Regions from separate parts of the Homo sapiens genome. Here region 2 is linked to region 1. Evidence: fine-mapped expression QTL. A gene starts in region 1. The other region holds a variant in brackets. All regions are shown on one strand. Distances are between the middles of the regions. Region 1 holds the start of DGUOK (deoxyguanosine kinase). Region 2 overlaps DGUOK (deoxyguanosine kinase).

Evidence for each region.
Region 2: its variant is fine-mapped to the expression of DGUOK in lung (TOPMed, PIP above 0.99). The same link has a PIP of 0.9 or more in whole blood.

The regions. Positions count from the first base shown.
Region 1 is chr2:73,920,658-73,935,751 of GRCh38, reverse strand. It overlaps DGUOK (deoxyguanosine kinase), which reads right to left and starts at 8,872. Exons shown (of 7, transcript NM_080916.3): 1 at 8,700-8,872. The coding sequence starts at 8,841. RefSeq lists an enhancer at 8,571-8,840.
Region 2 is chr2:73,951,199-73,966,292 of GRCh38, reverse strand. DGUOK (deoxyguanosine kinase) reads right to left here. Exons shown (of 7, transcript NM_080916.3): 5 at 9,053-9,168; 6 at 8,048-8,147; 7 at 7,347-7,583. The coding sequence ends at 7,557. It overlaps DGUOK-AS1 (DGUOK antisense RNA 1), which reads left to right. Exons shown (of 2, transcript NR_104030.1): 2 at 8,086-8,326. Among named protein-coding and RNA genes, the nearest start is that of DGUOK-AS1, 23 kb to the left of the region's middle. The variant G/CTTAAG (reference allele first, on the strand shown) is at 7,355.

The sequences.
Region 1 (15,094 bases):
AAGGCAGCTTCAGCATACAATGACAGTAAATGGTGGTGAAATGTCCTGAGAGCTGTGCCATCCATGTTTCTCAGCCTTGGAGAGCCTGGGTAATTCACTACAGGGCAGTATTTCTTAAACTAATTCCACTGGAACTGAGCTGTGCCAGGTACCACCCACAGATGTGGAATAATTACTTTAAAAAATAATTCAAAGTTACATGGTTTTATTAAAGCCAGACACAGTATAACTTTCTCAGTGCTGTGATACCTGATCATCATAGATTTTTTTTTTCCCTTCTTGCTGGGGTGTTGTTTGTTTGTTTGTTTTGACAAATGTTTCAAGATGTTCACAGGGGGTTCCTAAGAGTGGTGGTGTTTTGCTCTCCATTGCTTCAGAAGCCTCCTCCTAGTGACCAGAACACCCCTGTCTACAGAAAGCCATACTTCTTCAGCCAATCTCTTATGATATCACTATCTCAGACTTACTGCAATTTAGTTAGATCCCAGCTTAGCTGCTATCTTTCCTTTTGAGATGGGGGTCTCTCTCTGTCACCCAGGCTGGAGTGCAGTGGTGTGATCTTGGCTCACAGCAACCTCTGCCTCCTGGGCTCAGGTGATCTTCTCACCTCAGCCTCCTGAGTAGCTGTCCAGTATGTTTGACCTGTCCAATATATTGTTTGTTTATTTATTTATTTTTGAGACAGAGTCTAGCTGTTGCCCAGGCTGGAGTGCAGTGGCACAATCTCGGCTCACTGCAACCTCTGTTTCCTGGGTTCAAGCGATTCTCCTGCCTCAGCCTCTTGAGTAGCTGGGACCACTACAGGTGTGTGCCACCACGCCCGGCTAATTTTTGTATTTTTGGCAGATACAGGGTTTCACCATGTTGCCCAGGTTGGTCTCAAACTCCTGAGTTCAAGCGATCCACCTGCCTTGGTCTCCCAAAGTGTTGGGATTACAGGCGTGAGCCACTGCGCCGGGCCACTGCTGTTATCTTTCTTTCCTTTTTTTTTTTTTTTGAGACAGAGTCTTGCTCTATTGCCCAGGCTGGAGTGCAGTGGGGTGATCTCGGCTCACTGCAACTTCCAACTCCCGGGTTCAACTGATTCTCCAGCCTCTCAGCCTCCCGAGTAACTGGGACTATAAGCACGTGCCACCACACCTGACTAATTTTTGTATTTTTAGTAGAGACAGGGTTTCGCCATGTTGGCCAGGCTGGTCTTGAACTCCTGACCTCAGGTGATCTGCCCGCCTCAGCCTCCCAAAGTGCTGGGATGACAGGGGTTAGCCACATCGCCCGGCCTGTCTTTCAATATACTCTCAGTATTATGAATTTTGGAAGGTATCAGAACTTACAAGCAGCATCAAACCTTCCCTTAGGACCCTGGCCACCAGTGTTCTCTGTTGTTATATTGCCACAACCTTAAAAAAAGGTGGAAGGTACTTTCTTAAGAGTATATTACTTCAACATGTTGATTTTCATTAGCTCCACTATTCTCATTCCACAAGCTGGGACAAAGAGTTCTGTTGTTACCACTCATCTTTTTCTAAGGCATGTTTTTTTCTCCCCACAAAATTTTCTATAAACTGACAATGCCTACCATAGCTATGTAATGCTAAAATCTAGCAGCAAGATAGCATATGATGTAATACCCAAAATAACAGATCCCATTATTTTACGTCTAATACAGCTGTATTTCATAGGAGCCTATATTTATCACCTCTAGGCATTTTCATCTCCTGAACAAGATGAAAAACATGAGAAAAAAAATCCAATTCTGAAATCTTTTACCAAAATCCAACAAAGTCAGAACATATAAAACTGTCTAATGTCTTTTTTAAAAAGTCCTTCCAAAAAAAATTGAAGTCTTTATTTCAGATACTGTATTTGATGCTGCATTCATTCACTCACTCATTCAATCAACAAATGTTTATGGAGTAGCTACTCAGAGGTAAGTACTATAACTGAAATGATGATCTAGGCTGAGAGCTTGCCCTCAAGTTATATTCCAACCCCAAGACTGAGTACCCAGGATCATACAGGCTCCAAGCTTAAAGGCATTCTAGGCAAAGTTAATAAAAATCAGTCAGCAGGCTTAAAAAAAACTTAATACATTTTACTTTGATGACCTTTTTTCATGAAAAACTGTTTACGAAAAAAAAAAGGCAAAAAATTTTCTCACACCTTCCTATGATCCAAACTCATCTGCTCAGCACAAAAGACCCTCACTGATCTGACATCCCCTCCTCCCGCCTTGCCTACCAGGTGATTCAGCTTTCCACTGCCACCTTCTCTGTGAAGCCTCCTTGAACTCTCTCCAGCGCCACTTCATCTCTAGGCAGAGTTAATTACTGCCTGCTCTGGTTTACCAAAGGATTACGCTGTAATTATTTGTTCACTCATCACTCCCTCCAGCTAGACTGGGAGCTCACTTTTGAAGACAGAGACTGAACCTTTGCATCCTGAGTATGAGAACAGTGATGGAGGGAAGGAGGTGAGTCACAGGCACAGAGAATCCACTATACAGTATTTGAAATAAATAGGCTATTTTTTCCCAAGGATTCTTTGCCCAATCATTTATACTTAAAATAAGTAAGACACATATTAGTGATGTGAAGTCACTAATTTTGAATGCTGGAGGAAACATGTTATTAGGGAAGCCCTCTACTGCTTTATGTTTAAGTTTCTTGATTGAAAAGTGCAAAAGAGTTTCCTCTTTTCTGGTTGGGTCTTTGAAAATAAGGTAAAAATGCTGAGATGACTCACTGACAGTGAGATTTCATACAGCAATCTTTTCTTCAATTTACGCTTGTAATCGTAAGATAATCACAAGAAGATGATAATACACTGTAGGGATGAACAGTCTTAAAAGACAGGCTAGGTGTTTTATTTTTTAGATTTTCAGGGGTTCTAGGTACCAAGCTTTTGACTTTCAATCACACATCTTATATGGCTTCGTAAGTCATGCTAGATGCCATTAGTTGCTACTTCACTGATCAATTTTCCTTACATGCCGCTGTCTGCACCTTCAGGATCAGAATAATAGGACTTAGAGCAGAAGGAATACAAGAAAAGCCCTCTAAACATACCCAATTTTGGTCAGGACAGGGGTTCACCTTCCCTGTTCAGGTTTCCTGAATGGGTGCTCTCATTCTGATTTGCTTGAGGATGTTACCTGTGATTAGAGAAGATGATCACTCTTGATTTAAAAAGCAGTTTAATACATTCCCTGTGTGGGTACCAATGCCTAACTTCCACATGGATATCATAGCACAGGATTCAAGAATCTGGTCAGTACTGAGTACACTGGGTCAAGGCGGGGGTTAGGTGTCAGCAATACAAAGATGAACAGCACACTGAGTGGTCAGAGCCCAAGGAAGGTGGTGAATGTGCAAACAAGCTCAGCAGAACTCAAGTGCTGCAGCAGTTGTGGGTACAAAATGTTATGTCAGCCCACAGAGGAGGCAGTGACTAATTCTGTCTAGGGAGAGTCATCAGGGTGTGTGGGGTGATGAAGAGTAGTGGGAGATGAAAGTAAAAAGAGTCAGATTAGGTCCTCCCATTCCACTTCGCATCACCCTTTTCTTGGGCAATTGCATTTACTTCCAAGGCTTCACCAACTACCCCTCTACCCACCAGTCAACAACTTCCACATCTGAAATCTCAGCACCCATCTCCGGACTCTCTTGACCTCAGGCACATATTCCAATCTGTCTCAGAACACCTCTATGTCTCACAGGCACCTCATACAAAACATATCACTCTAACCTCCCCAGACCGCCTCTTCCTTTATTCCCATCCTCATGAACCTCAGTGTCACCCTCCTCTACTCCTCCTCCTACCTCACCTCCAAGTGGCCACCACATCCTGTCAATCCCGCTTCCAAAATCTCTCTGAAACCGTCACTTCTCTGTCATTTCAGTTCTTCTATTCAGGCCTGCATCTTTCCTCCCTCCAATTACTCCAATAGCCACAAAACTAGTGCACAGACTCAACTCTGTTCCAATTCATCTATTCATTCATCCAACAAACTGGATGCAAGGCACTATGGGTACTGCAGCAAACAAAATATACAAAGAAAGTGCCTGTTTTATGGAGCTTTCTTTCTCATCCTACACAATTTCCTTTTTTAAATTAATCTGGTCATGGCACACACTGGCTTCAAGTGTTCAACAGCCTCCCACTGCCAACAGGATAAACTAGCATGGTCCACAAGGCTCTTCGACATATGGCAAATCCCACCCTTCCAACCTCTTGTTCTGCCACCCTTTCACAGGTCCCTTCAACTCCAGGCACATCCAACTACTTCTCTTTCATTAAAACTGCATGTGTTAGCTAGGCGTGGTGGCACATGCCTGTAGTCTCAGCTACTTGGGAGGCTGAGACAGGAGAATCACTTGAACCTGGGAAGCGGAGGTTGCAGTGAGATGAGATCACACCACTGCACTCCAGCCTGGGTGACAGAATGAGACTCCATCAAAAAAACAAACAAACAAACAAAAAAACCCCCAAAAAACTGCATGTGTTTCTTCAGGCTTCACCACCTTGGCACATGTTGCTTTCTATGGCTGAAACACTTTTCCCTCTTCTTCCTCTTGGGAATTCCTACCCCAGAGATTCTGGCTTTCCATGCCCAATCACAAATCTCACCACACAGTATGAAAATTATGTCGAGTCGGCCAGGCACGGTGGCTAACGCCTATAATCCCAGCACTTTGGGAGGCCGAAGCTGGCGGATCACGAGGTCAGGAGATTGAGACCATCCTGGCTAACATGGTGAAACCCCGTCTCTACTAAAAAATACAAGAAATTAGCTGGGCATGGTGGCGGGCGCCTGTAGTCCCAGCTACTTGGGAGCCTGAGGCAGGAGAATGGCGTGAACCTGGGAGGCGGAGGCTGCAGTGAGCCAAGATCACACCACTGCACTGCAGCCTGGGTGCCAGAGCAAGACTCTGTCTCAAAAAAAAAAAAAAAAAAAGAAAAAAAAAAAGAAAATTATGTCGAATCTGTTTTCTCCTACTTAGTTGTGAGTTGTGAGCTCCTTGAAGGACAGGAGCTGTATCCCATTCACTGCTGTGCTCAGCATGAGAGTGGACTCTTAGTCCTCACTCAGTAAGCCTCTGTTGCACAAGAAAGCAAGGAAGAAGCAGAGAAATTTGACAAGGTTAAGAAGCAAAAGTCAGGAAAATAGAGGGAGTTCAAACCTTATCTGATGACCTGTCCTAAGTACTTACTTTGTGACATACCCTGTTCTCTCTCTGGGATTTGAGGACAGAGCTTCCTTTAGGGGTGTGTTTCTCAAAGTACAGTACAAAACATCATATTTAAATAATAACATCATCAGGCAAATAGCAGGACTCTCCCTTCCCATTCCTTTCAATGTTTCGGATTTGGCTGGAGAAAAACACACAGCCATGGTGACTGGTCTCACTTTAAATTCATGACCACTAACTCCAAGTGGGTCCTAAATGGTACCCAGTAATTCAACATTTCTCTTGCTTATTCACTAGAGTATTTCATGTCTTCTGTCTCTACATTCACTCTTAGCTGATGACCTTTCTTCCTACTTCACTCTGAAAACAGACACAACCAAAAGACCTTCCCAAGTTCCCACCACACCCTCTGAAGTTGGTGCTCATATATTTTGCCATCACGCCTGTTACTAGGGATGAATTGTGCTCCTAGCTAAGACTAAATTATTTCCCACTGGGCAATAGATTCCATTCTTTCTTGCTTAAAAATCACTCCAGCAATTCTATCCTCTGTCCCGATTTACCAATTTTCCTCCTTTCCACTAGACCACTTCTGTCAACTTAAAAACATGCTCTAATTCTTTTCACAAAAAGAAAATTAAAAATGTTAAACACTCACACCCTCTTCTAATTTCAGCTACCACCCCATGACTTCCCTTTCTAAAAACTTCCAGTTATCTTAACCCACTCTCCTCACCTCCCATTCTCCTTGAACCTATACCAATTAGGCTTTCACTCCTAACACTCCTAAAACTGTTCTTTTCAAGTTCACCAAAGACCTTCATTTACTTAAACAGTATAACACAGCTGATCATTCCCTCCCACTGAATACCTTCTTCACTTGGCTTCCAGGATATCATTCTCTTTTGTTTTTTTCTCCTACCTCAGTAGGCATTCCTTCTCAGTCTCTGCTTATTCCTTCCCATCTCCCCAGTTTCATAATATTTGCATGCTCAGGGCTCAGTCCTTTCCATCAACACATAGTCTCTGGCATTAAATACCACCTACATTTACAGCTCCAGTCCGGGGAGACCCTAATTCTGAACTTACATATCCAATTACCTATTCAACACCTCTACTTGGATATTAATAGGCATGTAAAAACCTAACATGCTTAAAACCAAGGCTCACTTCTGTAATCCCAGCACTTTGGGAAGCCAAGGCAGGAGGATCAATTGAGCCCAGGAGATCAAGACCAGCCTGGAAAATATAGTGAGACCCTGTCTCTACAAAAAATATACAAAATTAGCCACGCATAGTGGCAAACACCTGTGGATCCAGCTACTCAAGAGGCTAAGGTGGGAGGATGGCTTGAGCCTGGGAGGCAGGCTGCAGTGAGATGCAATTGCATCACTGTATTCTAGCCTGGCAACAGGGCAAGACCACACCAAAGGAGGGGAAGCGAGGGGAGGGGAGGAAGAAGGAGAGGAGGAAATAAAAGAAAATCAGGAGTCTATCTTTCAAGTACTCAAGTCAAAATAATTGGAGTCATCATTGGCCCCTCTCTTTACCTTACACTCTGCATTCAACCTGTCACCAAATCCAATTGGCCCTATCTTAAAATATAACTAGAACCCAATCATTTCTCACCACTTCCACTGTTAAATTTTACTTAAAATGTAACTCAATTTTTGTTAACGTATAACTAGAATCCAATCACGTCTCACCACTTTCACTTTTCACAATACTATAATTATTGCAATACCACTTAACACTCTTCACTTTCAATGTTATCAGCCACAGTGATCTTTTTATAATCTAAGTAAAACTGTCACTTGACTCCTCAAACCTTCCAATGGCTACCCATCTCGGTAAGATTAAAAACCCATGATAAGGCCTATAAAATCTGGCCACCCCTTGGGCTTTTGCCCTAATTTCCCTCCCATCCTTGCTCACTCGACTTCAGTCACAACGATTTCCCTCCTATTCCCCGAACACACTTTCCACCTCAGGGCCTTTCCAATTGCTCTTCACTCTGCCTAGAAGATTCTTCTCCCAGGTATCCACGTGATTTGCTCCCTCATCTTCAGTTTTTTGCTCAGATGTCACCTTCTCAGTGAGGCCTTGCTTATTTTATTTAAAATGACAACTTCGGCCAGGTGCAGTGGCTAACGCCTATAATCCCAGCACTTTGGGAGGCCGAGGCAGGCGGATCACCTGAGGTTAGGAGTTTGAGACCAGCCTGGCCAACATGGTGAAACCCTGTCTCTACTAACAAAACAAAAATTAACTGGGTGTGGTGGCGGGTGCCCCTAATCCCAGCTATTCGGGAGGCTGAGGCAGGAGAATCGCTTGAACCAGGGAGGCAGAGGTTGCAGTGAGTCGAGATCGTGTCATTGCACTCCAGCCTGGGTAACAAGAGCAAAACTCCATCTCAAATAAAATAAAATAAAAACTTCCCTCAATTCTTCATCCCTAATTTTTCTCCATCATACTTATTACTCTCTAACATATTGTTCACCTTGCTTAATTTATGTTGTTTATTGTCCATCTCTCCCTACTTGAGTTCCATGAGAGCAGAGATTTTTATTTGTTCTATTCACAGCTGTATTCTCCAGGCCAAGAACAGTGCTGGCATATGGAAGTGGCTCAAAAGGTGATTTGTTGAATGAATAAAAAAAGAAATTCTCAGTTTGCTGCTACGTCTTCAGTACTCAACACTTGCTAAGCCCCTTTTAGGGGCTCAGTGACTTGGTAGATAAAAGTATCAAGTCAGAATTTATTAATATTAAATCGAAATGCTTTGCCTTCATTTTGCTTTCTGACTACTTTTTATTCAAGATACTGGATCTCACTCTTTTAACAAAATAATTTTTAATTTAATACATGTTTTTAAGTTTAAAAAGTGAGGTTCTTCTAAGAAAAGCCTTAAGAAATTATTATGCAACTAGCACAGGCACAGGGCAAAAATTGTGAATGTGGTATTTGAACGACTGAAATTTAGGAACTCTCTTCGAATAGGGTTGCCAGATAAAATACAGGACACAGTTAAATTTGAACTTTCAATGAGTGATTTCGTTGTTGTTTTGCTGTAAGGATGTCCCAAATATTGCATTGGACACACACTAAAAATTATTCGTTATCTTAAATTCTATTTTAACTGGATATTATTTTTAATTTCTGCTAAATATGGCAACCCTATCTAGGAGAACAAATAAACTGCACCCGCTTGTCGCTTCAATTTCGATCTATTACAAACAGCTAATACAATTCTTGTCCTATCCACTAACTGCGTGGCTTTTATGCCCCAACAAATATGTTCCTGTGGGCGGGTACTGAGGCCCGATATCCTAAAAACAAGGAGGCAAAGATACACAGTGCACTTTGCGAGGGGAAAGGCTCTCCTCGCAGCCCAGAAAAAGAGGCCGGCCGCATCAGACGCAGGCCATTCCGGGCCCAGCTCCTTTCCCAGCCTCTGTCGCCTGCGTGGCGGAGGCCAAGGCTTGGCAGCCGCTTTCCGGCCCTTACCAATGTTGCCTTCGATGGAGAGCCTTCGGGGCCCGCGCCCCGCGTGCAGGCCTCTGGAGGAGGAAACGCCCTCGAGTGGGCTCTTGGCCATGGAACTGAAGGGTGCTCGAAGCCGACTTAGAAAGAGGCGGCCCGCGGCCATCCCACCCACGATTCACACAGCGATCACTTCCGCCGAGAGCACTTCCGCCCTAGGTATCGCTGCTCACTCGCTCCAGCGCACCGTTGACGTAAGGAGATCGTCAGACAGGAAGTGGGTGGGGTTGAACATGCGGCGGGGTGCGCCCAAGAGACCGCTCCGCTATCGCGATGTTTGTAAAGAAGCGTTGAGTGAAGGAAGTTTTGCAACGGTGCAGAATTTGATAGTAAAAGGAGTTGCGGTGCGAGTGGTTTTTGTTCATTGGACAAATAACATTTTAAAAGACGTAATTCCACAATCCAACCACTTCATTTTTGTATAACTTTAAAATAAATTTTATAACTGAAGACAAAATTAAAAATAGAAATTGTAATTTTAAGAGGGGATTTCCCCCCCCCCAGGTGCTTGTTGTCTGGTTTTTATTTTAATATCGGAAGAAAATGGAAGTTTTAAAGTAGGAAAATGACTCAATCTGATGATTTACACAAATTTAACTTTTTCCTATTCCCTGTAATTCCCCTGCACAATGCTGGCATATTATTGACTAAATTAACAAATTAGATAATCAGTTACACCCCATCTCTTAGTTTGTGTCTTGAATAAGTAAATAAATGTTCGGTCAATCGATTTGCATTATACCCAAAAATCCCTTCAGGATAAGGTGGTGGTGGCTCAGGTATGTGACTGGAAATTGTTTAAACCTGGTAGGCTGGGTTCTTGGACGTAAGCAATGGCGAGTAGAGACTTGTATAAAACCTGAGTCCTGCTGTCGGTGAAGTGTGCTCTGCAGGAGGGCAGGGACCTAAGCTGCTGCCACAGGTGAAGCCGGACTGCCACACCCCGTCGTCATAACAACCTCAGAAGTAATGATTTACAAAATGTTGTCAAATGGTGCTTCCAGTTCCAATCGCTTAAATCACCAACAGTCAAAACCAGGAGTCAACAGGCCAAACCGGCCTTCAGGCAGCGCTCTTAGGTGTGGCAGGTTTTAGAAGACAAGGATCTGATTGCAAGGGGGCTGGGGAGGGGCCGGGGGCTGGGATACCTGTCTTGAAGCTGTTCCCATAAAAAGCACGGGACCTTTTTCTTATGTTGATGTATATATAGGATGGCTGAGGTCATGTTTATATATTAAGAACTTTTTTTTTAATCGAATTTTTTAAGGATAACCAGGGTGGGGCGTTAATGGCTACTGGAGCGGCTAAAGTCCTACCCATTCCCATCTCCACTCCAGCAGCCACTTCTGTTAAAACAAAACAAAACAAAACAAAACAAAACAAAAAACAAAAAAAAAACTGCTTACATTTCTTTACCTATGTAAACTCAGACTTGGAAAATATTCATCCAAAAAAGCTTGAGAGGCTCTCTGCCTCGCCAGGATCTTGCTGCCTCAGGGGTGTTGTGAAAGTTAAATGAGGAAGTTGTCTGCAGGCAGGCATTAATCTCCTAAAAGCTACGAGGCAGGAAAATAGGGTCTGGAGACAGGGAACCTAAGGCCGATTTAGGCTGACTTCCTAGAACTAAATCAAAAGGAAAACCCCAACTTTCTAGCCCAAGTAACAAAAGGACCAGAAGCTAATCCCTCTTCTGGGTGGCAGATAAAAAATTGAAAGTACCTCTGACTGGTCCCCGCGGGCAATCAGTCAGGCTGGTGGCAGGCCAAGTCTTTAGTTGCATGGGGTATAACTTCATAACTTTACTTCAGCCTCTGATTGGTCCCCTCCTGCAACCAATCAGACTGATCGCTGGCCACTACTTCATTTACATAGGGTGTACACCAGGTAACCAATGGGAAACCTCTAGAAGGTATTTAAACCCCAGAAAATTCTGTAATTGCTGCTTGCTTGGGCCCTTCCTACCGCAAGGAGTGTTCTTTGATGTACAATAAATCTGTGCTTTTGTTGCTTCATTGTTTCCTTGCTTTGTACGTTTTGTCCAATTCTTTGTTCAAAATGTCAAGAACCTGGGCACCCTCCACCAGTAACAGAGCTCCTAAAAATTATTTTTAAAAATTTTATGGTGAAGTGGCCTGGCGCGGTGGCTCACGCCTGTAATCCCAGCACTTTGGGAGGCTGACGAGGGCGGATCACGAGGTCAGGAGATCAAGACCATCCTGGCTAACATGGTGAAACCCTGTCTCTACTAAAGAGAGAGAAAAAAAAAAAAGCGGAGTGTGGTGGTGGGCTCCTGTAGTCCCAGCTACTCAGGAGGCTGAGGCAGGAGAATGGCCTGAACCGGGGAGGCGGAGCTTGCAGTGAGCCGAGATCGCGCCACTGTGCTCCAGCCTGGGCGACAGAGCGAGACTCCGTCTCAAAAAAAAAAAAAAAAAAAAATTATGGTAAAGCATAGTATGTAGTGAGGAAAAGAGGATGTGTTGTGCAGTGAGGAAAAGAGGATGTGTTGTAAGTGTACAGTTCAATGAAGTTTTCACAAATGGAATGACTGTTACCTGGATTCAGATCAAGAAACAGCATTATCCGCATCTCCAGAATCCCCCATATTCGTTGCCAGTTACTATCCCTCAAAGATAACCATTAGCCTGACTTCAACAGTAGAGATTAGTTTTGCGTTTTCTTTATATAAATGGAATTATATAGTAAATACTTCTTTTATTTAACATATCTGTGAGATTCATCCAGGTTGAATGTATTAGTTGTAGTTCACTCATTCTCATTGCTGTATAGTATTCCACAATGTCACTATACCACAATGTACTCGGAAGTTTCTAGATTTGAGCCATAATGAATAGTGTTGCGGTAAATATTCTTGTACATGTCTTTTGGTAAAAAGAAGTATGCATTTCTCTTGGGTGTATAAGTAAGACTGGAACTGCTGTGTAATAAGTTACATATATATGCTCAGCTTTGATAGATATTCCCAAATAGTAGATAGTTCCACAGTGTTTGTTCTAGTTGACATTGCCATCATCAGTGAGAGAGAGTTCTGGTTTTCCCACATTCTTACCAACAGTTGATATTGTCAGCTTTTTAAATTTTATCCATTTTGCTGTGTGTAATTATAACTTATTGTGGTTTTAATTTGCATTTTCCTGCTGATTAATGAAGTCAAACATCTTTTTGTATGTTTATTGGTCATTTCAGTATCCTCTGTTGAAGTCTTATGTCCATTTTTCTATTGGTTGTCTTTTGCTTGTCTTATTCTTCAAATATTCTGGATGAGTCCTTTGTGAATATTTTATCTCTGTGGTTTGCTTCTTTTCTTTTCTTTTCTTTTCTTTTCTTTTCTTTTCTTTTCTTTTCTTTTCTTTTCTTGTGTTGAGACAGAGTCTCTTGCCCAGGCTGGAGTGCAGTGGGGCAATCTTGGCTCACTGCAACCTCCATCTCCTAGATTCAAGCGATTCTCATGCTTCAGCCTCCCAAGTAGCTGGGATTACAGGCATGTGCCATGCCCGACTAATTTTTTGTATTTTTAGTAGAGACGGGGTTTTGCTATGTTGGCCTGGCTGCTCTTGAGCTCCTGGCCTCAAGTTATCCACCCACCTCTGCCTCCCAAAGTGCTGGGATTACAGGTATGAGCCACAGCACCCAGCCTCTAAAAACATTCAAAATTTTTTTGATGTAGAGTGTAATGTAAGAAACTAAAATATCTTTTGCCTAAGTTGCCTGTCAGTTATCTTAATTCATTAGTAATAATCTTTCTACCCCCCTTTAGTTATCTATGCTTGTTTTGTTAAATGTTTTTTATTTATTTAGGTCCCAATTCCAAATTCCCAGAAGGGAGAATCTGATTGGCCCAGCTGTGTTCAGGTATCTAATCATGGTTCAATCAGCTGTGGCCAAGGAAGAGGGTTGGGGCCCCACTTTTGCACATGAGGAAGTACAATTAAGGGGATCTTCATGAGGAAAGAAGACACCCCAAAGAGGTGGTGATCATTTCCTCTTCGAAGCAGTAAACACGGAGTTTTCATCCCATTTGGGTGCTAGCCAGAAGACTGAAAGTAGTGGCATATTGGTGAGTAGAATTACCTCCCCCTTACCTGGGAGAACGAGGCCACTTCCTGCCCCTGGGCGATTTTGTCCTGGGCAAAATGTTGTCCTGCAAGAACTCTAGTCATTCAGCATCCATTCATTCATCCAATATTTGCTGAGCATCTACTGCATGCCAGACACTCTGCTTAGTCCTTGAAGTGCAGCTCTGAAGGATTTACTATTTTTCCAGTGTTTCTAAATGCTACCGTATACATAAAATACTGACCAATATTATTTAAAATGTCATGCAGCCATTAAAAAAGGGAGATAAACATACAAAAATGTGGCCCAAACTTTATTCTGCAGCCTGGACTTTTAGCCAGCTATATCTCACCTACTTTGAAGATTTTATAATGTGCTGGATTGTGCTAAATCGATTTGGTTAAATTGGAAAGTACACTTCCAGAACGCCCTACCAACAAGGCTCTGAGTTAGAGTTGGCCAAAAGAGGACCTGGGGTGAGATTTGGAAGGCAGAGTGGGAGTGTCAGCCATTCCTCTGTGGAAATCTTCTAGTCAGATGCTATGACAGACAGAGGTGCCCAGCAGATAGGTTTCACCTAGTCCTCCACCCATTTGTGACTCCTCTTGGAGTATCCCACAGTTCCTTGCAGACTTTCACTTTTCCAGCTCCTTCAGTCTTTGGGGAAAGTGTCATTCCTGTAATAAAGCCCTTATTCCCATAATACCCATAATGGCTCTGCTCCCCTGAATGAACTGTATTGATACACCTAATCATAAAGGGAGACGTATCAAAAGGTGGTTAACAGTGTGGGCTCTGGATTCCAGTGACCTGGGGGTGAGGATTAAGAGAGAGAATCCACCTGCCACACCTGCCACACAGTTACCACCCAATAGACATTATATAACACATAATAAGTAATGGCTGCCTTCTTAGGCCCTCAGTGCCTGGGACATTGTTTCTCTCTCTCTCTCTCTGATAGGGTCTCGCTTGTCAGAGGCTGGTTTGAATTAGGCTCAAAGGATCTTCCCACCCCAGCGTCCCAAGTAGCTGGGATTACTGGTGTGAACCATCACACCTGACTTTTGTCGATCTTTAATAGACTTCCAGTTGGATTTCCACTTTCCTCAAGCCACTGTCCCTCTCTCTGTCAGTGGATAACTCCATATCCATTGAAGAATCTAGGTCAGCATTTTTTAAACTTGAAATAGAGTAAGACTGGAGTAGGGGTGGAAGGATGGGGAAGGGAGGTCAGATGGGTGCGGGGGGTTTGTGGGAACAGTCTGGGCAGCCTGCCCTTCTCCATGTGGAGGTCCGGATGCCCCTCTATAGCGCAGTGTCGGTGCCCTACATCTCAGATCGCTCCCGCCTCCTCCTGTGCCTTCTCTTCCAGCAACCAGAGCCTGCAGCTCTTCTTTGGAGGAGGCCTTTGCCGATACAGGTGGAAAGCCTAGGACTTCAGTCCTCCCAGGGAGCGCCCTCACCAACCACTGGCAGGTGGGACTGTGAAAGCCTGGCTCCCTGTCCTTCACCAGGCTAACCTTAGACTCCAGAGCTCCCAGTGGGCGGGGCCAGGCTGAAGCTGCCCTCTCCAGGACATTATCTGCAATTACCCCCTTGACAGATTTCCTCCCCTTTCCTCTTCTGCGCCCCCCTCCCCCGCACTCTGCTTACCAGCTGTCCTCAGAGCACTTCTTTAATAAGTCGTTTGCAGGGAATCCTCATTTCAGGGTCTGCTTCTGGTCCTCACACAGAAATCCCCTAAGGGCTTATGAAAGCCGCTCCTCCATCCCACCCCACCCACAGAGATCAAGTGCTGGGAGGGTGAAAGGAATGTCTGGCATTGAAGTGTCTGCGCTTAACCACTGGACTCCACTGTCTCCAAATGGGTATGTCTGGGAAGCTTCATGGACCAGGTGGGATCTGATGGGGGCACGAAGGCTGGGACTTTGCTAGGTGGGGAGGTGAAAGGTGCACCAGCCCAATGTGAGGATCTAGTTCTAAGGTGAACTAGCTGGGTGACCTAGTAACCAGTAAACTAGCTATAAAATGGGAAATGATGCTAGTACCTGCCTCATAGGGTTGTGGTGAGGATTAATTGAGGAAATCCATGCAAAACTCTTAACCTGGCCTGAATACATGTTAGCTATTATTATCATCCCTTATTTTCTCATAGTACTTTTAGGCGCTTGTTTCACTTCGTGTCACTGTCTTGTATGCATGTGTCTATCTCTGCCTGTATGCAGTGAGACCCTAATGGGCAGGAATCATCTTTGTTGGAAACATAAATCCCTTGTGGCCTTACC
Region 2 (15,094 bases), 31 kb before region 1:
GGTTTTTAGGCTGGGTGTGGTGGCTCACACCTGCAGTCCCAGCACTTTGGGAGGCTGAAGTGCGTGGATCACTTGAGGTCAGGAATTTGAGACCAGCCTAGCCAACATGGTGGTGTTTACTAAAAATACCAAAAAAAAAAAAAAAAAAAAAATTAGCCAGGCATGGTAGTGTGCACCTGCAGTCCCAGCTACGTGGGAGGCTGAGGCAGGAGAATCACTTGAACCCAGGGGGCGGAGGTTGCAGCGAGCTGAGATCATGCCACTGCACTCTGGCCTGGGCGACAGAGCAACGCTGTCTCAAAAAATAAAAATAAAAATAAATTTAAAAAAAATAAAGGTGTTTTAAGAAAATCATCTGATAGCAACATAAAGGGTGAGCTGGGAAGTGGAGTAGAAGGCATCTGTAAAGACACTCCAGAACCTTCACCAAGCTTCCACATACATTCTAATGGCTAGTGCCTGAAGGGCACTTTATGAAGGTGCAGTTGCTGAGAAGAGAAAATCTAGCCCCCCAGAAACATCTCTCCACCTGTTCAGGGACCCAGGGGCCAAAGGCACAGCTAAGATGCACCTGGTGGCCTCCACCTAGCAGTGCTGGCAAACTAGGTTTTCCTGCCCAGGCTACAAAATTTGGCTGGTAAATCCAGACAGGCAGCCAAGGAAATGCTTGCTTGCCTTCTTTTCTGAAAATCTAGTCTTATCTCCCTTATGTAATGGTTTGGTGTTATGCAGAGAACAGGCTCTGGAGTCAGGATGGACCTAGGTGTGAGTCCCAGCGCTGTCAGTTACTGTGGGACTCTCGTTGAGTTACTGAACTCTGAGCTTCAGTTTCCTCACTGGTAAAAACTGGCACCTTAAACCTCCTTCACAGGATTATTGAGAGGGTTGAATAACATTTAGAAAGTGTTCAGTAGGGTAGCTGGCACACAGTAGGCATCTGATAATCATCAACTCCTTTGACAATTTAAGAGTAGAGTCCAGGCCCCAAATTTCTTGCATATTCTCAGTGCTTAGTACACAGAAGGGACTTCCTCAATTGATGATCGTAATATAGAGCTCACAAATAACCCAGGAACCTGAGAAAGGGCGGAGCGTGTCTCCAGTCAATAATTTCTTTATTTAAAAGTCTATGTTAGGCACTCATGAAACAGCAATAAATAAATAAATGCCAGGCATTGTACTAAATGACCAAGACATGGTCTATGTCAAGAAGGTCAAGGCCAAGGACATCAAAGAGATGTCTCCAGACAACTTTCATTCAGGTATGACACGTTTGACAGAAGTTTAATAAACAGGGTGCTCAAGGGCACAAAGACTGGACATGGTGTGGGGTGAGGGAAGGGCTCCACAGAGAGAGGAATGGTGGGCTTGGGCCTGGCAGGGTGAGTAGTTCTTCCAGTGTAAAAGCTTGGGGTGGTGGGTGGGGGGTGGGAGAGAAAGAGAGAGAGAGAAACATTTTGTCATGTGGGAAAACACATCTGAAGCTATGGGTGGTCTCGTGGGGTTTATGGTAGGAGTGATGGGAGATAGGGTTATAAAAACATGGTAGCTCTCATACCTCCACATAGGAGAGGCTGAGGGGCAGCTCTCTGGTGGCAGGGGTGGGGCAGGTGACCTGACCTAGCAACCACTGTTCTTTTTTATACATCATTTAGTTGATGTGGCTTGGGGAAGAAATGATTACTGGTAGTAGTAATTGGGGGGCAGGGGAGGGGCCATTCCTGCCATTCCTAGGCATGGCCACTGCTACAATGGGGACCATATGACTGCTATGGAAGAGGAGGAGAGGTGGGATGAATGCTGGGGAGTCAACCACAATTTCCACTACACCTTCAACTAGAGAGACAGAAACAGGTGCAGAGAAGATTTGAAAGATTTCAGAGATGAATAGGCAGAATTTGTTGAGAATGAGTGTAAGTGGGGGGTCAAAGATAACACCAAGGTTTTTAATGTGGCCAACGGGGTGAATGGAGAAGCAGGGGAAATGGCTTTGCTGGCTGGGTTGGGGTAGGGTTGGTGGTGGGTATGCGGGTGGGGAGAACTGTTTTGTACCCATTGAGCATAAGGGATCCGGGTTGTGAAATCCATAGTTTGATATAGCTCTAGCTTTAAAAGACATCCTCCTGTTTGGGATTTGCTTCAGAATAATGAGAGTGGGGGTAGGCTGTAGGTGAAACCAGATTGGTTCTGAGTAGATAACCGAAGTGGGTGAGAAAGTCGAAGTTGGCGAGAAAGTCGAAGTTGGCGAGAAAGTCGAAGTTGGCTCATGCTAAGAAGGTAAAAAGCTGCCCTGCGACTCAACAGGCTGGGAGGACATTACACAGCTAAAGCCAGTCACAAAAGTTACCATGAAACAGTATTTCTCCCACGAGCACGTTGTAGCCGTAAAGTGTCATAATGACCCCTTTCCTTGTGTGACTACTGCTTTCTGACTCATAGAGAAACCTTGTTCTTTAAAATCATGAACTATCAGAAACTTTGCTGTGTGAAATGTTAAATGTTATCAGTAAAAACTTTGCTGTGTGAAATGTTAAATGTTATCAGTAAAAATTCCTTTTTTTTTTTTTTTTGGCCAGAAGATTCTAAGTCACTTTGACACAGAGAAGTTGTCTTGGTTTCCAAGCCAGGTTCAGAGTTTCACGTAAGGAGCTTCTGAACACAAATTCCATGTTTGTCTTAACTTTGTACTTTCTAGGGAAACAAACCTGAGTTCACCGAACAGTTCAGAACAGACTCCTTTATACACAGTCCTGCTTTGCTTTGCACCTATCCAAACAATGCTTCATTCAATTTTACCAAAACTCTAGTTTTCCTTAAAATCCTGTAACGGTATATTTTCCTGTTTGGTGAGATGCCCCACAGTTCCTCTGGTATGTGGTCTTCCTCATTGCAATCTGACCTTCTCAAACTCAAGGTTCGTTTCTGGTGATCTTAGGCTGATTGGGCTAGAATGTGGGTATGGGGGTACAGGGGTGCTTGATACCATTCCCTCTTGCATATGATTCACATTTTCCATAAAATTTCCAAGTTCATAAGAAGTCTTCACCCCATGAGAATAGTAGGAGCCATGATAGTGTTTGAGATCTGCGGAAAGCAGAATAGCAGCCTCCCTCCCACCCCGCAGCTTAGATTTCCCAGAGGGGGCCAGTGTAATCACGTGGGTCCTTGAAAGCAGAGAAGGATTCCTGGCTGTGGTTAGAGATGCAACACTACTGGCTTTGAAGATGAAGGGGCCACAAGCCAAGGAATGTGGGCAGCTTCTAGAAGACAGAAAAGGTAAAGAAACGGAGTCTCCTCTAGAAACTCCAGAAAGAAAAGCAGCCCTGTTGATAACTTGATTTTGTCCCAGTGAGACCCATGTCAGAGTTCTGACCTCCAGAGCTGTAAGATAATAAATGTATGCTGCTTTAAGCTGTTACATTTGTGGTAATTTGATAATGGCAGTGATAGAAAACAAATCCAAGATCACGCAGAGGGAGTGGACGAAGACAGAAATGAGCCAAGGGTACCTTGGGGACACCAACACTTTCGAGGAAAAGAGAAAAAGATGGCAGCCCAGGAAGCAGAAGGGGAGGCATCAAATGTAGGGGAGCCAGGAGAGACCCATGAAGGAGAAAGTGGTTCAGAAAATGTAAACTGCTATTTAAGTGAGGGCTGAAGAAGGTTAAATAGTATTAAAATTTTAAAGTGCATGTTATTTCGTTGCATCACTTCCTCTGTGATTCTGGTATTTGCATATAACAAACAATCTCTTTTACTTGAAATTATCACCTTCTGAGAGTTTGAGAACTTTCACAACCTTGATCCTTGTTATAAACCCATCAAGGTAATATTCAGGTTCCAGAACAGCAGGTTTTACCACATCGTAAGCCAGAAAGAAATGCAGCTATTTCTTATGTGTTAATCCAAATTTTTTGACGCTGGGAGTTGGCCTAAACCAAGAATAACAGCCATCCAGACTGGCCTGAGTGTAGAGTAGGGACCGTTTTAGTGTGACCTCCACTCTCTAGCGTCCACTTTAAAAACCCACGGTGCCCAAGGTTTCAGCCTGCCTTCCTGTGGTCCTAATCTGCACACTTACAGGCTCCACCCAGACCTACTTGTCCCTCCCCCACAATTTAAGATTCAAAATTACTGCTGCTCATTAATATGTTTACTCTCTACAGATGATCTCGGCTACAAATTTGGAAAATGACAAATATCACCTAGGTTACACTGTTGATGGCCCGCACTATCCTAGAGGATATTTACTTTTTTTTTTTTTGAGACAGAATCTCGCTCTGTCACCCAGGCTAGGGGGCAGTGGTGCAATCTCGGCTCACTGCAGCCTCTGCCTCCCAGTTCAAGCAATTCTTCTGCCTCAGCCTCCCGAGTAGCTGGGACTATAGGCCTGCACTACCATGCTCAGCTAATTTCTGATTTTTAGTAGAGATGGGGTTTCACCTTGTTGGCCAGGCTGGTCTCGAACTCCTGACTTCAAGTTATCCGCCCGCCTCGGCCTCCCTAGGTGCTGGGATTACAGGCTTGAGCCACAGTGCCCAGCCAACGTTTACTTTCTAAAAGGCAATATTTACCAATAGAGATGCTGAATTTGTAGACTTTCAGGCTTTAAAACTAGGTGAAGAGTGTAGTGGCTTACATCTGTAATCCTAGCACTTTGGAAGGCTGAGGCAGGAGAATCACTTGACACCAGAAGTTGGAGACCAGCCTGGGCAACATAGTGAGACAGTCTCTACTAAAAATAAAATAATTAGTGGGCGCGGTGGTGTGCACCTATAGTCTCAACTACTCAGGAGGCTGAAGTAGGAGGATGGCTTGAGCCCAGGAGTTCAAGGCCGCAGTGAGCTGTGACTGCACCACTGCACTCCAGCCTGGGCAACACAGTGAGACTGTTGTGGGGGAAGAAAGGAACGAAGTACTGATACATGTTACCACTTGGATGAACTTTGAAAACATTATGCTCAGTTAAAAAAAAAAGTTACAGGAGACAACATAGTATGATTCTATTCATATGAAATTGCAGGAATAGGCAAATCTACAGAGACAAAAGTAGACTGGTTGTTGCCTAGGGCTGGGAGTTGGCAGCAGGGAAACTTGGGGGAGATGGGGTATGGGCTTTCTTTTTGGGGTGATGAAAATGTTCTGGAATTGTGGTATTGGTTATACAGCCCCATGACTACTATACTACAAACTATTGAATTGTATACTTTATTTTTTGTTTTTATTTATTTATTTATTGAGATGGAGTTTTGCTCTTGTTGCCCAGGCTGGAGTGCAGTGGTGCGATCTTGGCTCACTGCAACCTCTGCCTCCTGGGTTCAAGCGATCCTCCTGCTCTGCCTCCTGAGTAGCTAGGATTACAGGCACACACCACCACACCCGGCTAATTTTTTGTATTTTTATTGGAGACGGGGTTTCACCATGTTGGCCAGGCTGGTCTCAAACTCCTGACCTCAGTTGATCCACCTGCCTCAGCCTCCCAAAATGCTGGGATTACAGGCGTGAGCCACCACGCCTGGCCTGTACACTTTATTTTTAAGAGATAGAGTCTCGCTCTGTCACCTACAAGTGCAGTGGCAGGATCATAGCTCACTGCAGCCTCCTGGGTTCAAGCGATCCTCCCACCTCAGCCTCCCAAGTAGCTAGGACTACAGGCTCACTCCACCACACCTGGCTTATTTTTTTAATTTTTACTTTTTTGGAGAGCTGGCCTCTCGTTATGTTACCTAGGCTGGTCTCAAACTCCTGGCCTCAAGCAATTCTCTTACTTTGGCCTCTCAAATCTCTGGGATTACAGGTGTGAGCCACTGTGTGTGGCCTGAATCGTACAGTTTAGATGAGTGAATTGTATAATATGTGAATTATGTATCAATAAAGCTATTAAAATGTTTTAAATAAGTAGGATAAGGAAATTGCCATACTTTTATATTAAAACATTACTTTTTTTTTTTTTTTTTGAGACAGAGTTTCGTTCTTGTCGCCCAGGCTAGAGTGCAGTGGTGTGATCTCAGCTCACTGCAACCTCCGCCTCCTGGGTTCAAGCGATTTTCCTGCCTCAGCCTCTCAAGTAGCTGGGATTACAGGCATACACCACCACGCCCGGATAAATTTTGTATTTTTGGTAGAGATGGGGTTTTGCCATGTTGCCCAGACTGGTCTTGAACTGCTGACCTCAGGTGATCCACCTGCCTTGGTCTCCCAAAGTGCTGGCATTACAGGTGTAAGCCACCTTGCCTGGCCTATGTATTTGTTAGAAACCAATCTCACATTCATTTCCCCAAAGCATAAAGGACAGAAACACAGATTTCTGTCTTCTGGGGCACTCTTACGTCCCCAGATCATTCATCTTCCTGTGTACCTGCAGAACCGTCAAGGGTTCAGTGCAGATCTGCTCCTGTGAATCATGGACCTGCAGGCTTCTGGCAATGGAGCACTTCAATCCTATAGAGCCATGTATTTTTCTTCCCTTAACAATAAATTCTATTTGAAGGGTAAAGAGCACAACAAAAAATTTTTTTTTTTTTTTTCCTGCACAGAGAGATCCACTCCATTAACGTTATCTGGAAGTCATTGGGTAAGGTATTTAGACAAAGATAGAGTGCCGGGCGGGCCAATCTTAAATGTCAGATGCTTAACTTTTGGGTTCTTGCTGTTTTCTACCTTTTTCTTTTGGCCAGGTTCTTTAGCTCTAGGACAAGGGTTTAAGTTCCCCACACCTGTCCCCTATGTCAAGAGTGGCAGATGGGAAGAGATAAAGAAGCTTCCTGGAGTTCATGCTCCATTTCCTGCTCTGGGGGGCTCACATTTAAGATCCCACCCACTCTTGAGCCACTTTATTTCCCTTCTTCATGCATGGCAGGTAGGGCTTGGGTTAGAGTTCTGGGAGCAATTTGAAAATTGCTAGTTGATATGGTTAGGCTTTGTGTCCCCAGCCAAATCTCATCTTGAATTGTAATCCCCAGGTGTCAAGGGAGAGACTTGGTGGGAGGCGACTGTATCACCGGGACAGGTCCCCCATGCTGTTCTCATGGCAGTGAGCTCTCAAAAGATCTAATGGTTTTATAAGGCAGGTTTCCCTGCTCTTTCTTGCACTCGCTCATTCACCTGCCACCATGTGAGATGTGCCTGTTTCCCCTCTGCCATGATTGTAAGTTTCCTGAGGCCTCCCCCACCATGCGAAACTGTGAATCGATTAAACCTCTTTCCTTTAGAAATTACCCAGCCTCAGGTAGTATCTTTATAGCAGTGTGAAAACGGACTAATACACTAGTCTAGAGGTGAATTTAGAGCAAGCACCAAGAGATACATGCTGAAATAAATGAGCAACTGAATTAGAAAAACAAGCATAACTTAA[G/CTTAAG]TAAACTTTATTTTCAAAATGCTTCAGGTACAAAAGAAAACAATGGCAAAGTCTAACAATAATTAACAAACCAGCTCTTGAGCGGCAGAGTGCTCCAGGGATGAGAGGGGCTGGGGATGGAAAGGTGGTTGGGAGACACAACATTTTTCTAGCTTCAGAAAGTCAGGGAGCCCAGATCACAGCCTGAACTTCATGGTATTGGTTACAGATTCTTTACAAAGGTGTTTACCTGTGGGAAGGAGAAAATCAGAAGTTTAATTTCACATTTTTAACAGAATTTTCAATGGTCCACCCCCAATGCATATGCAGCCAAGCCCATGAGGTTTTTGTGAGGAAAGGAAAATAATAGGCATGGAGAAGAAATGTGGGCAGCCCAGGGTCATATAGCATCAAGTGGCAGAGCTGGGAATAGAATCCAGTAGTCTCATTTCCCTAGTTTTAGGATGCCTTAGAGAAGAAAGTCAGCTGGCAAGCACATGTTACAAGTCAATTATTTAACAATTATTAGTCCAGCATACTTTAGAGAATAGGGATATTTGTAATCTGCACAAGATTCCATAGGCCTTGGAGTGTGAAATGCAATGTGAGATGCAAAGCACAAGACCCATGATATTGAACTTTGAAGCAAAGGCCAGAAAGATAAAAGTACAACAAAGGAAACCACCAGAAAACAGGAGTTAAAGTCCTTCCCACCTCTCTCATGAGGTCTTCTTGTTTGGTTACTTCCTCAGAAAAATCATCATTGACATCCAACACCAGCACTGGAATGTTCATCAGAGCCTCAAAGTGGAGCCTATAAGAAGCGTGAACGTTTGGGGGACAGAAAAAAAGAAATGTAACTTGAGTCAAGTTTCACATACTCGCCAAGTCTTACTCAGAGAACAGATCTAAATTCAACATGACTTTTCAAAGAAACTGCATGTAAACTGCATTTAAAAAAACAAATTCAATAAAGTTGGCCGGAAACAGAAAGGTTGAGGTTTCTCTTCATTCTTGAGAGTGATACTAACAAACAGTCAGAGCACCAAACATTTTAAGTGGACAACAAACCAAGCCTAAAGGGAGGACAGGCAGAAACCAGGAATGCCAACTTAGTAATACTGACAATTTCTCTAACATTTTCAGCCCTTCATGCTGAGCCAACTATCACCATCAATCACAATGTTCAGTCTAGGGAAATGTTAAGAAACAAAGAAAAAGCTGGAGAAATACAATCTAATAAAAAGGCCCTTGGAATGTAAAGATTATATTCAATATTAAACTTCTTCTGGGCATCTCACTCTGTCGCCCAGGCTGGAGTACAGTGGTGCGATCTCGGCTCACCGCAATCTTTGCCTCCCAGGTTCAAGCGATTCTCCTGCCTCAGCCTCCCGAGTAGCTGGTATTACAGGCGCCTGACACCACACCTGGCTAATTTTTCTATTTTTAGTAGAGACAGGGTTTCACCATGTTGGCCAGGCTGGTCTTGAATCCTGACCTCAGGTGACTGCCTCAGCCTCCCAAAGTGCTGGGATTACAGGCGTGAGCCACGGTGTCCAGCAATATTAAACTTCTGAGTTGGAAAATGCTTGACATTTCCAACCATTTCCAGTATATTCTGAACCTTCCTACAGGGGGCTGCATGCTGAACTTGTTTTTAACAACTGGCTGTTGGGAGCCAGGTCTCTGTCTCTGATACATTCTTTTCTCCCCACTTACTTCGTTGTCTTGTGAATAAGCCAGGCTTCGTGTTGGCCATGCAGCTGCTCTAGATAGGCCAGCTCAATTCCTTTCTCCTCCTCCCTGGCCCTCTGGTACAGTCTCTTCAAACAAACCTAAAAGACAGTCCCCAAGCCCTGATGAGCTCTTTGCTGTTTTGGCTGCTACAATGCAGTCTTCGGGGGCTCTGAGGCCCACCCATAATGTCTATCTTGGGCATTACAAGCCATGCCTTTGCTTCTGCTGTCTTGTTTTCTTATGCAATCAGAGGATCTACACCATTCTTTTCCCATCTCCACCTTAAACCTGCTCTTCCTCTGAAGTATCCTAAGTCGGTTAATGATGAACATCATCCATCCAGTCATCCAAGCCACGGACCTGGAATTTTCCTTGTTTTTCCTTCTCCCTACTATATCTGGGAAGTCACTCAATTCTCTTTCATCTCTCTAGAATGTTCTCTCCTTGCCTCTCCTCTCACCTCTGCCCTGGTCGGGTCCTCTTTACTTCTTACCTGGATTATGGCAAGAGCCTTCTGGTTCTGCCTCCTGGAGGCAGGGAAGCATATGGACAGAGTACAGGCCTTAAGGTCAGAAAGTCCAGGAGTAAATTCCTGCCTTCATAAGGTACTAGCAGTGCAGTCCTTGTGGGCTTCTATTTCCTCATTGTCTACCCATCCACAGGTCACTGAGGTAAGTTGTATTGAGCTCCTGGCAAAAGCTGTTCCCTCCTTCCAGTTTTTCCCCTTCACTCCACCCGTCTGTAGTACGGCAATATAATGACATGACTTTCCTTGCTGAAAATACTTCACAGGCTCTTTACCGCCTACAGCCATAGCCCCAGGGTTCAAAGCAGTATGTATGAATAGCATTGCATTTATAAAATGTTAGGTAATTTGAAATATCTCTTTCATGTCATACCAAACATTCACTCAGGAATAGAATGTAAAATTTGCACAGGTCAAAGATAAAACAAAGAAGTGGAAAAACAAGTGAGGCTTGAGACTAACTCTCCTCCCCCGCTGCTTTGCAGAGTGTACATAATTCTATTCTGCATTCATCTGGTAGTGAAGTTTGATGCACACTGGCTCAGAAAATGACATCTTCTTTACCTGTCACACAAAGCTACCCCTCCTACTTCTCAACTGCCTTAGCTCTTCCCCTGGACTCACTGCTTTAGCCAGATTTGACCTCTTTCCTGGGGAACAGGCCAGGCTCTTTCACACCTCAAAATTTTTGCTCCAAATGTTTGTTTTGACTGAATTATCCTCAGTCCTCTCTCTGCTTGACAAACATTTCATTATTCAATATCATCTGTCCTGGAAGAACAGATGGATTAACCCACTGATTTAGGACTTCACTCTTTTTTTTTGAGACAGAGTCTTGCTCTGTTGCCAGGCTGGAGTGCAGTGGCGCGATCTCAGCTCACTGCAACCTCTGCCTCCCAGGTTCAAGTGATTCTCTTGCCTCAGCCTCTCAAGTAGCTGGGACTACAGGCGGGAGCCACCACGCCCAACTAATTTTTTGTATTTTTAGTAGAGATGGGGTTTCACCATGTCGGCCAGGATGGTCTCGATCTCTTGGCATCGTGATCTGCCCGCTTCGGCTTCTCAAAATGCTGGGATTACAGGCGTGAGCCACCGTGCCCGGCCAGGACTTCCCTCTTTCAATAACTTACTTAAGAAATGAAAACTTAATTTCCAAATGTAGTACACAATAATCCCAAAGACTTGGGAGTCTTTGCTGTTTCCCTCTTATCTTACCTTTTCTCTAAGGAAATGAAATTATAGAAACAAATTTTATTAATGATCAAAAGGTATATGCACTTGCAATTATATACTGCCAGACTGCCTCCTTAGAGGTTAACCAATTTATATTCCCACCAGAAAGGTAGCTTTAGGATTTCTAAGCATAGCAAAGCTATCATCTCATTTTCCTTTCTGAGAAAAAAAATGTTGTCTGTTTCGTGAAAATAAATTTTTTTAAAATGTGACTTTATGTTTCCAAGTACACACACAAAGGCAGAACAATTCTTTTTAGGAAAGCTATTTATAATTATTCATTCACTGCTTGCAGACAAACCTTGACACTAACATTGATCTATTAAAATAAGCTAACATATTTCTATTTACTATTAATTTCCTTAACAGAGCAAATGGATTTCCCTGAGAAGTCTAAGTCTTAACTGGTGGCAGTATTGAGTGGGGAAAAAAAAAGAGGTCGAAGTAAACTCCTACTATGAGCATTTGGCATAACTCTTGCTTTACTGATATCGCTATAACAAATTCTATTTAAAAAAATCCCGTGCAAACAGTGCTTTAGTCTGACCCCTCTTCATCTCAGTCCTCATGAGGAAGACACACCTGAATGTGAACAGGAAAGATAGTGTAGCTACAAGTGGCGAGGGAGAGACCCTTTACTGGTCTTCTTAACCTGTCCCACCCAGGAAGAAGAACTGCTGCTCTGCTTGCTTGGAGTCAGAAACAGAAAATGGAAAGTGACTGCTAGTGGGTCTTTTCACTATGCCTCTCAAGCCCAAACCCAGGTGCCATTTGTCCCATGCACCTCCTGCATGCTGTCCCCATGCTGTGCCAGTCCCAGGTAGGGCCTGGCTTTTTGATGTACATTGATCAGCTGCACTCTCTTGATTCCATGGGGCTGGCTAGGAACACTGAGGCCTAGCTATTTCTCTTTTGAGTTTTAAAATTGTTAGCTTGCTTGTGTTTTAAAAAAAATTTTTAGAGATGGGGTCTCCCTATGTTGACCATGCTCGTCTTGAGCTCCTGGCCTCAAGCAATCCTCCCATCTCAGCCTCCCAAAGTGCTGGGATTACAGGCGTGAGTCACCGTGCCCGGCCTGAGTTGCCTTTTCTAAAAAAAAAAATTTATTTATTCATTTATTTGAGACAGGGTCTTGCTTTGTGGCCTAGGCTGAAATGCAGTGGTGTAATCCTGACTCACTGCAGCCTCAATCTCCCAGGCTCAAGTGATATCCCACCTCAGCCTGCTGAGTAGCTGGGAATACAGACACACCACCATGCTTGGCTAATTTTTAAATTTTTTGTAGAGGGCAGGGGGCTCTCACTATGTTGCCCAGGTGGGTCTTAAACTCCTGGGCTCAAGCAGTCCTCCCACCTTGGTCTCCCAAAGTGCTGGCATTGCAGGCATGAGCCACTGCACCCGCCTGGTCCAGTCTGGCCCGGCTTGCTGGCTTTTAAGAAGTTAGGGGGCCAGACGCGGTGGCTCATGCCTGTAATCCCAGCACTTTGGGAGGCCGAGGCGGGCGGATCACGTCAGGAGATCGAGACCATCCTGGCTAACATGGTGAAACCCCGTCTCTACTAAAAATACAAAAAAAAATTAGCCGGGTGTGGTGGCGGGTGCCTGTAGTCCCAGCTACTCGGGAGGCTGAGGCAGGAGAATGCTGTGAACCCGGGAGGCGGAGCTTGCAGTGAGCAGAGATCGTGCCACTCCAGCCTGGGCAACAGAGCAAAACTCTGTCTCAAAAAAAAAAAAAAAAAAAAAAGAAGTTAGGGAAGAATAGGTAGAAAGGAGCAGAAGGACCTACGAAGTCCATCTGACATGCTCGAAACTCAGTATTTACGAGGGCTCTGAACTGGAAGATTGGGCACTTGCACAGCTTTTTACATAGTGACAGGACAACTTCTATTCTGCTCTTCCCTTGGGCACAGTTACCTCTGAATTTCACAGAAGAGGTCAAGTGTGACTTCAGGGAAGAAACATGGGCATTCCTGCATCTCTGGAACTAATGCCATCAAAACAGCATTAAAATCCCCATCTAATCTCAAAATGAATAAGCTATTTTTCTTTTCTGCCATTAAGTTGTAATAATCCTTCAACTCTTCTCATTCTACTCCAGCTGAAATATTTCAATTAGCCTCTCCAAAAGGGCAGATCTGCCCCCAAGTGACGACGACGACGACGACGACGACGATGATGATGATGATCATCATCATCATCATCACCATTTGCTATGGTTTGAGTGTATCCCCCCAGAATTCATGTGTTGGAAATTTGGTCCTTAGTGTGGTAGTGCTGAGAGGTGGGGCCTTTAAGAGGTGATTAGGTTGTTAAGACAGATTAATGCCACTCTCTTGGGACTGGGTTAATTCTCGCCGGAATGAGTTCTCACTCTCGTGGGATTGGACCAGTTGCCATGAGAGTGGGATGTTATAAAGCAAGGCTGCTCCTCCTATCTTGCCCCTTTTGCACATGCCTGCTCCCTTCCACCTCATCATATGATGAGGCAGCAGGAGGTCCTCAATGGAAGTTAAGGCTGCCCAATTTGGACTTCCCAGTCTCCATAACTGTGAGCCAAAATAAGCCTCTTTATAAATTAACCAGTTTCAGGCATTCTGTTATAAGGTCATTCAGAGTGCACAAAGAAGAAAAGCAATTAAGACTTTCTTGTTCTCCTTGCTGGGTCCAACTTCCACTCCCCAGAAACAAGAGCCTCTTCAGCTGGCCCAAGTAGCCCCATTTTACTCCCAGGAATGAGTCAGCCCACTTCCTCTCTCACTCCTCCCCAATGCTGGCTTCATGGCACTGAGCTGAATGTGCTGTTCTCTTGGAAAAGGTTAAGTCAGCATTCTCACTTCTCCTAATGCTCAGCTCGTCCTGAGAACCTCCTGCTTCTTTCAGTCCAGCCATCCCAAGACTCCCATAGGAAACCTGTCACTTCTTCAAATTCCAACCAGGATCTTTACTCAATCCAACCTCACAGCACTCTCACTCCTCTTTGGCCCAGGCCACAAGCCTTCCTGGGGCTCAGGACTTCTCTCCCAACTTGAACCCTACACTTTGACACTTCAAACTGTCCTCTTTGAGAGGGGACTCCTCTCCCCACAATCGCTGACACTAATCTCTACCCCTAAAGTATAATCCCCTTCTTCTATTCTGGCTCTCAGGCAATGAAGACTATTGAAAGAAGTCACATAAACATGACCCACCTTGTCAACTTGCAATCAATGCATCTAACTTTAGTGTGGTTCTTTCCATGGAAGATTATTAGCCCTCTGGCCTCACTGAATCTTTAGTTCAGTTTTATTTTATTTTAGAAACAAGTTCTCACGCTGTCACCTGGGCTGGAGTATAGTGGCACGATCACAGCTCACTGTAGCCTCGAGCTCCTGGACTTAGGTGATCCTCCTGTCTCACCTCCCCAATAGCTAAAACCACAGGCACACATAACCACACTCAGCTAATTTTTAAACTTTTTTGTAGAAATGGAGTCGCACTATATCGCCTATGCTGGTCTTGAACTCCTGGCCTCAAGTGATCCTCCCACGCCAGCCTCCCAAAGTGCTGGGATTGTAGGCATGAGCCACTGCACCAGCCCAGTTTCATTTTAAACTTTAACCCTTATTTATTTCTGTAGAATCTCTTATTCCCTCGTACGATCTAGCTTTTGCCTCAAAATGTCCAGAAACTCTCAACACAAAGATCCCCAATATCTGGCCCCAGTCACATTCAAGGGCCTTTTTTCCTGGTTGCCACCTTCTTAAGGCAAGACCCTTCCTTCCAGTCCTCTCCTCGTTGGCTGGTGTGAGGCTCTGTGATGGGAGCTCTCCCACTCATCCTCTGGTTCTGCTCAGTCTGTTCTCGGCTCCTTTCTGCCCACAAGTCTCAGTTCCATCTCTAAAAAGCATAGCCTCTAGCTTGGAGACAGCTTTCCTTCCTTCTAACAGTATGTGGTATATCTGGCATTTGACTATATATTGGATGTATATCTCAAAAGCTGAGAGCAGTACATCTCTAAAAAAAAAAAACTCACCTTGACTCAGAATCCCACTCCAGAAGAGCCCTTAGAGATCGTCTAGATTGAACCAGTGGATTTTACAGGCAAGGATCTCTCCAGTGGAAAGGTCTCCAGGGGCTGCCCAAGGTCACTACCAGTCAGCAGAAGCCACAGCTCACTTCTATCTCCAGAGACTCTGGTGCTCCTGCCGTGACATCATCCTACTTCATGTAGGATGGCACCAGCCAGAGAGTCACAGAATGGAACTGCTATAGTCCATCCTGCCTTC